2 separate regions of the Homo sapiens genome follow, and region 2 is linked to region 1. The links come from fine-mapping of genetic effects on gene expression. A gene starts in region 1. The other region holds a variant in brackets. All regions are shown on one strand. Distances are between the middles of the regions.

The links.
Region 2: its variant is fine-mapped to the expression of ZNF778 in sigmoid colon (GTEx, PIP 0.95).

Annotation. Positions count from the first base shown.
Region 1 is chr16:89,215,282-89,219,669 of GRCh38, forward strand. It overlaps ZNF778 (zinc finger protein 778), which reads left to right and starts at 2,422. Exons shown (of 7, transcript NM_001201407.2): 1 at 2,422-2,629. ZNF778-DT (ZNF778 divergent transcript) reads right to left here and starts at 2,372. Exons shown (of 1, transcript NR_186410.1): 1 at 1-2,372. RefSeq lists enhancers at 960-1,254, 2,204-2,253, 2,778-3,308, 3,309-3,838.
Region 2 is chr16:89,096,452-89,100,799 of GRCh38, forward strand. It overlaps ACSF3 (acyl-CoA synthetase family member 3), which reads left to right. Exons shown (of 11, transcript NM_001243279.3): 2 at 2,140-2,312; 3 at 4,211-4,348. The coding sequence starts at 4,231. Among named protein-coding and RNA genes, the nearest start is that of ACSF3, 4.8 kb to the left of the region's middle. The variant G/T (reference allele first, on the strand shown) is at 1,946.

The sequences.
Region 1 (4,388 bases):
GAAAAGATGATCAACATAACTAAACATTAGGGAAATGAAAACAAAAGCCACAGTGAGATCACATTACCCCGGTGGTGATGGCTCTTAGCCATTAAATAGGAGGTAACTGTTGGCTGGATGTGGTAAAGTTGGAACCTTGTGCACCTGCTCATGGGAATACAAAATGGTGCAGCAGCTCTGGAAAACAGGACAGTGGTTTCTCAAAACATCAGACAGAATTATCATGTGACCCAGCCATTCCACTTTTGCATATATATCCAAAAGTGCTGAGAACAAGGGTCCAGGATATTTTTGCACACGATGCTCAAAGCAACATTATTCACAATAGCCTGCTGGTGCCAAAGTCAAATTTTAATACATTCAGTTACTTAAAACATATCCGTGCGGTGGCTCACGCCTGTAATCTCAGCAGTCTGGGAGGCTGAGGCAGGAGGATCACGAGGTCAAGAGATAGATACCATCCTGGCTAACATGGTGAAACCCCATCTCTACTAAAAATACAAAAATTAGCTGGGCTTGGTGGCACGTGCCTGTAATCCCAGCTACTCTGGAGGCTGAGGCAGGAGAATCGCTTGAACCTGGGAGGCGGAGGTTGCGGTGAGCCAAGATTGTGCCCCTGCACTCCAGCCTGGTCGACAGAGCAAGACTTCGTCTCAAAAAAACAAAACAAAACAAAATTAAAAGAAAAAAAAACATATCCCAAGGGCAGGCACGGTGGCTGCAGTGGCTCACGTCTGTAATCCCACCACTTTGGGAGGCCGAGGCGGGTGGATCACCTGAAGTGAGAAGTTTGAGACCAGCCTGGCCAACATGGTGAAACTCCGTCTCTACTAAAAATTACAAGGTGGGCACCTGTAATCCCAGCTACTTGGGAGGCTGAGGCAGGAGAATAGCTGGAACCTGGGAGGCGGAGGTTGCAGTGAGCCAAGATCGTGCCACTGCACTCCAGCCTGGACGACAGAGGGAGACTCCGTATCAAAATTAATAAATAATAAATAAAACACATCCCAAACACTCATAGTGTTGAACCATTTAGCATGTGGTTGCTTTGTATACTTCGTGAAATTGTGTCCAATCTCTGCTAGCCATAGATAAGATAAATCCTGGGGCTCTAAAGACTGCAAGCCGTTGCTGCCCTTCAGAGCTTTGTGACTCAGACACCTGTCAGGCTGCTGAGAAACGTGATCTAGTCACGTCAGCCCTCCCCCTGTCTGATCTCCTTCTTCTCTGGGAGTTCTCTGCGCGCCCCCCGCCCACGCTCATTTTTTTCTCTTTTCTGAGTAGTGACCCCCAATTCGAAGCCTGTGGGTAATCTCATGGTGCGTGAGACTCCCTCACCCTCCAACCTGTCAAAGCTTGTGCGCCACCGCCACCTCCTGGGCACATCTTGTTTCTTAATCAGCCACGAAATCACGTGAACACTTCACATGTGGTTTTGTTTTGTTTTTCACATTTAGACTCCTGATCCGTTTGGAGTTTATCCCTGTGAGATCCAGAATTAATTTCATCATTTCTCAGACGGCTAACCATTTGTCTTAGCACCTTTCATTATAAACTGCATGTTTGTTCCACCGCTCTGAAATTATGTTTATGAACCAAATTTCCATGTTACTGGGTTGATGTCTGGATATTCCATTTGTTTCCTGTTCATGTGTCACTAGCACACAGTTTTAATGACAGAGGCTGTTTTCGCATCTGTCGGGCATTGCGCTTTTGTTTGTCCGCGTCGTCTGCGTTATGAGACATTTGTTCCTCCATGTGAACTCCAGGATCAATATGCCTGGTTCCAAAAAAAAAACCTTTTCGTATTGTTACTGGAATCATGTGACATTTCTGAATGAACCTTGGGAGAACCCCTGGTATCAGTGCTATTTTGCAACGTAGTATAGGTGGTCTTGGCTCCTACGGTACATTAGAAAAGTAACAGAAACGCATATTTGAAGCGAAAAATAGATGAACATTTACAGAAAAAAAAAATACCACATTGAAAATGCAGTGGAATCAACTGTTAAAAGTTCGGCGTGATGTTCAGACAGATAAAAAGGAACGGGGCCAGTGACTCCCTGCAGAGATCGAGAGAAGACCGAGCACTCCCAGCACCCGCGGGCTTCTCGCTGTGACCGAACCGCGGGCCGCGCTCGCGACGAGCACTTCCTGGCTGTACCCGCCCAACCGCGCCCTCCTGGTCTGTTCCGGCTCCGCAGTTGCGTCCAGAGGCCTGATCCTTACGTCCGCCTGGTCCTCCGGGCCTGTCTCTGCCTCCAGCCCGGTTCCCAAGGGCGCCCCGGGGCCCTCCCGCACCCTCGCGGAAGAAACTACTACCTCCCCGCACCATAGGCCAAAGCTTCGGCCCGGAGGCTGGAGGCGGAAGTGACGCCAAAGACGCGCCGGCCCCTCTTCCGGCGCCGGCCCCGCCTCCGCCTGTCTTACAGCTGATCCGGTTCTTGCGGCGGTGCGTGCTGGCGCCGGAGAGTTCCGCGCGTGTCCTCGGGCTGTCCGCGGGGAAGCTGGTCCGGGAGTGGGCGCCCGCCCGCCTGCCTCGCGCCTTGCGCCCCCGGCACCGCTTCCAGAAGGGAAAGTCGCCGCCGCTCGCGGTAGACCCGGGCAGCGCTTCCATTCCGCGGAGCTGGTGAGAGAGGGGCCCTTTGCTTCCTTCACTTTGAACAGGGCGTGTTTCTGTGAGAATCTGGCTTCGGCTTTGACGTTTTTTATTTGTTTCTGGCACATTGTGTTGGGACCGAAGCGTAAGGTAGACCCCTGAGCGCCCCGGGCGTGCAGCTCCCTGTGAAAGTTAGCCCGTGGGGGCCAGCGGGAGCGCGCGTCCCTCGCCGCCGGGACTTCCAGGCCCGGCCCTCGGGGCGGGAGGGATGCGGCCGTTGTCCCGCTGGTCTTGGAGTAATCGAATCCACGGTGAACAGTGTGTTTCGACTAACTGTATTTTTTCTCACGTTTTGCTTTAGAAAATCTGAATCTAATAAAAATGTGAACATCTGCTACAAGGAATATCCACTGCAATCGTTTTACTCCTTTTTAGCTTTGGGCCATGTTTTCTCTCTCCCCCAATAAATAAACCTTACGGTGAATTATTATTTGAGTGTAAGTAAGTTGAAATTAAACTGCACACATGATACTTAACCTTTAAATACTTGGTAAAGCGTCTGTTAAGGGTAAGGACATTATCCTACTGAAACCACAATATTAGTATTTCATCTAAGAAAATTAAAATTAGGCCGGGCGCGGTGGCTCACGCCTGTAATCCCAGCACTTTGGGAGGCCGAGGCGGGTGGATCACGAGGTCAGGAGACCGACACCATCCTGGCTAACACGGTGAAACCCCATCTCTACTAAAAATACAAAAAATTAGCCGGGCGTGGTGGCGGGCTCCTGTAGTCCCAGCTACTCTGGAGGCTGAGGCAGGAGAATGGCGTGAACCCGGGAGGCGGAGCTTGCAGTGAGCCGAGATGGCGCCACTGCACTCCAGCCTGGGCGACAGAGCGAGACTCCGTCTCAAAAAATAATAATAATAATTAAAAATAATAAGGTCCGCTGGGCACAGTGGCTCACGCCTGTAATCCTAGCACTTTGGGAGGCCGAGGCGGGTGGATCATCTGAGGTCGGGAGTTCAAGACCAGCCTGACTAACATGGAGAAATCCCGTCTCTACTAAAAGTACAAAATTAGCCTTGCATGGTGGCGCATGCCTGTAATCCCAGCTAGTCGGGAGGCTGAGGCAGGAGAATCGCTTGAACCTGGGTGGCACAGGTTGCGGTGAGCCAAGATCGTGCCATTGCACTCCAGCCTGGGCGACAGAGCAAGACTCCGTCTCAAAAAAATAAAAAAATAAAAAAATAAGAAGGAGGTCATCCACTGTCTACTTTGTGTAATATCTAGGATTCTCAACATTTTTCCAACATTGCGCTGTTGGGTATTTTGGGGACTAAGAGCCCTTCAAGGTTTATCTGTTCCCATCGTTTATGTCTTTTCACCTAGAACAACCCCTGTGGTTTCTCTATCATATTGACTTTGGTGTTGTTTTCTCGTGATACGTTTAAATATTCCTCCATTTCTTGCTGCTTCCTATGAACTTGTAATTGAATTCAGAGGAGAGGTTGGCAAAGGGCGGATAGTAAGCACCTTATGCCTTTGGGTCCACGAGGTCTCAGATGGCTGAGTTCAGCCTTAGTCACCTCATGTCCCATGTTAGCTGTTCCTTCTCTACTCTGTCCTGGTTCCAAGCCCCAGCCTATTTCTGAAAAGGTAAGTGGTCAGCTGCATAGATGACCGTTTAGAGGGTGTAGATTTACTCTGAAATCCCAGAGGGTTGTGCTCTGAGTCTTATCAGTGCTTGCCAGAGGCATCCAGCGGCATCCTGTTTACCATGGACGCTGT
Region 2 (4,348 bases), 120 kb before region 1:
CGAGGCAGGGCTCTGATCCGATGACCGTGAAGATTCAACCTCTGTGCTGAAGAGAACTGATGACTGGGCACTTCATTGTCCCAAGCCTGAGGGACTGAAAAGCTGGTTTGATGGGGCTGGTTCCGTTTTCCACATGCTTGGTGGGAGAATAAATCAGCACCTCGTTGGAGGGGACTTTGTCAGTATTTCTCAAAATTAAAGATGACCCAGCAATGTGACTTCCCGGCATCTGTGCCCTAGACACCCCGAGTGAACACAGCTGTAGGTGCCAGGACTCCCCCCTTCCCTCGGCCGACTCTGGCTAGGCCAGGCCCTTCTCACCCTCCATAGGAAGCCTCCCCACCAGGCCCCCGTCCGTTCCTCCTGCCCGTGGCCTCTCCTCATAGCGCGTGGGCTCTCTGGGAGCTGGGACCATGTCACACGGGGCCAGTCACATCTGTCACCTCCCAGGGGCTGGTGGCAGGAGTGCCCACCCACAGGCAGCGCTCTGGATTCCGCGCAGGAGAACAGCAGTTTCTTCTCAGCCTGCACTTTGAGTTTGCCCAGCCCAGCTGTGCACGTCAGCATCACCAGCTCTGCTGAGCTCTGGGTTTTGTGGGGAATCCACTCTTATTCTTCCGTGGCTTCGCCCTGCGGGGTGACTCAGGAATTTGTAGAAATGCCAAAAGGGGGGCTGTGCTCTGGTAGTGTGTGCTGTGTGTGCTCAGCGTGTGGTTAGCGTGTGCTCAGCGTGTGGTTACCGTGTGCACAGCACGAGCTTGAACTCGCTTTGTCAGAACTCGGTTCTTTGTGGTCTGCAGAAACCTTTTCTGAGCAGCAGCTTTAGTTAGAGGGAAGCCGTCATCCCCCTTTTATGTGCTTCTGTCATATTGAGAAACAGCTACACACAATGACAGGCACCTTCTATATTGAGTGAGTGTCGCCGGCCGTCCTAGTGCTCCGCTCCTTAGCACCCCAGAAAGCACCGTCCCCTGCTCCGAGCACCCAAGGCACTCCCTGTGGCTCTCAGCAGCGGAAGTCTGGCCTCGGGGCCGTAACCCAGAGCACCCAGTGCCCAGTCGGTTTTCTGTGTGTGGATTCTCCTTGTTTCTGTGCCCTCACACCTGTAAAGCAGTGCAGGATCGGTTGGAAGTGAGGAAGGAAGCGTGGTGGGGCCGCCCTGGTTTGCTGCTTTCTGAAGCTGGCACAGCCCACGTGCCGATCTCGTGTCTTGTGTCTGGTGAAGCCCAGTTGTTTTCTTGCCATTCTCTGGGTTTCTCTATGGTAGCAGAGTCCAGGTGTGTGGGCGGACCAGCCACTGCCCTGCCTCTGAACAGCTGTGGAGGGCTTCTAGAACATGGGTGCCTCGCGTCAGGAGATGATGTGGCCTGCAGGACTGACCGTTTGGTAGGATTCAGAGAAGACTCACACAGGACGTCCAAGCAGCCCGCGGAGCTGTGCTGAGGTTCAGGGCCCTGCGTGGCTCGTTTTCCTCCTGCCTGGGCCAGAGGCAGGAGATCCCTCAGCTGGCTGGGACAGGGGACTTCATTAAGAGCCCCAGGCTACCTGGGAGGCGGAGCTTGCAGTGAGCCGAGATCGTGCCACTGCACTCCAGCCTGGGTGACAGAGCGAGACTCCGTCTCAAAAAAAAAACAAAAGAGCCCCAGGCTAGTGGGGAAACCAGACACCCAAATCAAACAAGCAAAAACCAAGGCCAGTAGTTGAGGGTCTCAAGCACAAAACATACTTTGGCTCTGACAATTTTCATTGTCATGAAGTTTGTTTTGTTAGACAACTATGAAGTGTTGTGACGGTTTCAAACTAAGAGCAGAAAACAAAACTGTTTAGTACAAACCACAGACAATAACACAGTAGCTTTCCCCTCACAAGTTAATGAAAGAGATGTGCTGGAGAGAGAGAACCTGCTGAACATGGGCACAGATCCCACAGAGGGGGCGTGGTGTGT[G/T]GGAGGAGACTCGACAGGGTCATGGGGTCACTGCTGCCCGTTGTCGGGAGATAAGGCTCACAGCTTTATTTGATAATGTTGTCTTTAGCTTGTAAATGAACATGCTTCCCTTCCCCCATTGAGTGTTGAGTGTTGTGCCTGTGGGAAGCGTTATACACACAGCCTGGGACCTCAGCACAGATGCCCGTTGACAGGTGTCCCACCGGCCTTCCGGGTTCCAGCGCCAGGCCTGGTGCCTGCCCCAGGAGGATGAGCATTTGCATTGCCTGCACCTTATCGTGCCCTTCCACCTGCTGAAGCAGCTGTGCCTGCCGCTCTTGTGAACTGCGAACTTCCCCTTACCTCCTCTCTCTGGCTCGGGAGCTGGGTGAGTTTGAACTTGGCCTCCTTTGCTTTTCTGTGTGCGAACAAGTGGTTGCCTTGTTTGTTTACTGAACAGAGTGTGGTTGAGGCAAAATGCTGAGATGAAACCTAACCTAATATGTGTGTATTAGACGGTAGCATCATTGTCAAAATAATACTTGTTCAAAGTCCCTGAAAACCAAACGGACAACTTGACTACGCTTCGGCCACAGGCCTGGGACGCTGTCAGACCGAGGGCCGCTGAGTGCCCAGTGGCAGCAGAGCCCAGAGGGTGCTTCCCCCAGGAAGGGAGGCAGACCAGCCTATTCTTACTGTGAGTCGAGCAAAGCTTTGATTATAAAGGGCCAGGGATGCAGGAGCCTCGTGGAGAGTGCCACCCCTTCTTCTCGCTCTGGAATGCGGGGGCTGTGCCCCTGGCCTGTGTCCGCATCCTGGGGCGGTGTCCCGTGGGCAGTGTCCTCTGGCTGCAGAATGCATGTTGCAGAATTGGACCAGCCCTCACGCGTCAGGAGCGTTGGGCCCACAGGCGGAGGCACCCTGGCTTCTTCTCGGTCTCCTTTCTCTGAATGAAGAATTCCAGTGGACGGCGGGCCCGCGCGACCCCTCCCAGGGAGCCCTCGCTTCCTGCTGATTTATTTGTTATTTAGTAGTTAAGTTTTTGGGGGGAAAGGAGAGAATTATAGTTCAACCTAAAACACGTTTTCTAGCTCTGTGAATTGCCTGATTTAAAGCTTGGCTTGGCTGGGTGCAGTGGCTCACACCTGTAATTTCAACACTTTGGGAGGCCAAGGTGAGTGGATCACCGGAGGTCAGGAGTTGGAGACCAGTCTGGTCAACATGGTGAACCCCTCGTCTCTACTAACAATACAAAAATTAGCCAGGCATGGTGGTGCGCACCTATAATCCCAGCTAGTCAGGAGGCTGAGGCAGGAGAATCACTTGAACCCAGGAGGCGGAGGTTACAGTGAGCCCAGATCACACTACTGTACTCCAGCCTGGGTGACAGACCAAGACTGCATCTTAGATAGATAGATAGATAGACAGAGCGGGTGAGACTCCATCCCAGATAGATAATAAAGAGAGAGAGAGAAAGGAAAAAAAGGTGAGAGAGAGGAGAGAGAGAAAGAAAAGAAAAGAAGGAAAAAAGCATGGCTTACACCTGCCATAACCCCAGGACTTTGGACCAGCCTGGGCAATACAGTGAGACCTTGTCTCTACCAAAAAAAAAAAAAAAAGCTGGGTGTGGTATCACATGCTTGTGGGCCCAGCTACTCGGGAGGCTGAGGCCACAGGATGGCATGAGCCCAGGAAGTCGAGGCTGCAGTGAGCCATGATTGCATCACTACACTCCAGCCTGGGCGACACAGCAAGACCCTGTCTCAAAAAAACGAACCTTGGCACCTCACCACATTTCCACTGCGCACCAGTGTGGGAAGGGTCTGAGAGAGGCAGCGCCGTGTCTGCCCCGGGGGCGGGGTCTCCAGGCCATGCCTGTTGTGAGCGGGGGCTGTGCTGAGCTCTTCTCTGCACTTCCCCCTCTCACGGGTGGTTTTCCAGGCTCAGGATTCTAAAACCCATTATTCAGATGTACCTTAAGTGTGTTGAATTTTATATGCTTCTCCTTGGTTTTACCTAGTTTATTTCATTGTTTAGAATTTTGTGTGGTTTGGGAATCCTTAAACTCATGAAGTGAAATAGAAAGCTGAGATGCTGGGCACGTACGGAACGTTCCAGCAGTGTGGGTGAGAAAGGCTGGACGTGGCCTGTCTGGTGCGCTGCCTCATGACTGAAGGTGCAGCAGGCGTACCTGGCTGGGTACTGGGGAGGTGTTTTAAATCCTGTCTTGGCCACGTTTGGATGGGACAGTTGGGCACTCACGTCCTGTGCCTTGCCTTTCTCCAGCTCGGCCGCCTGTCAGTGCAATGCTGCCCCATGTGGTGCTCACCTTCCGGCGCCTGGGCTGCGCCTTGGCGTCCTGCCGGCTGGCGCCTGCGAGACACAGAGGAAGTGGTCTTCTGCACACAGCCCCAGTGGCCCGCT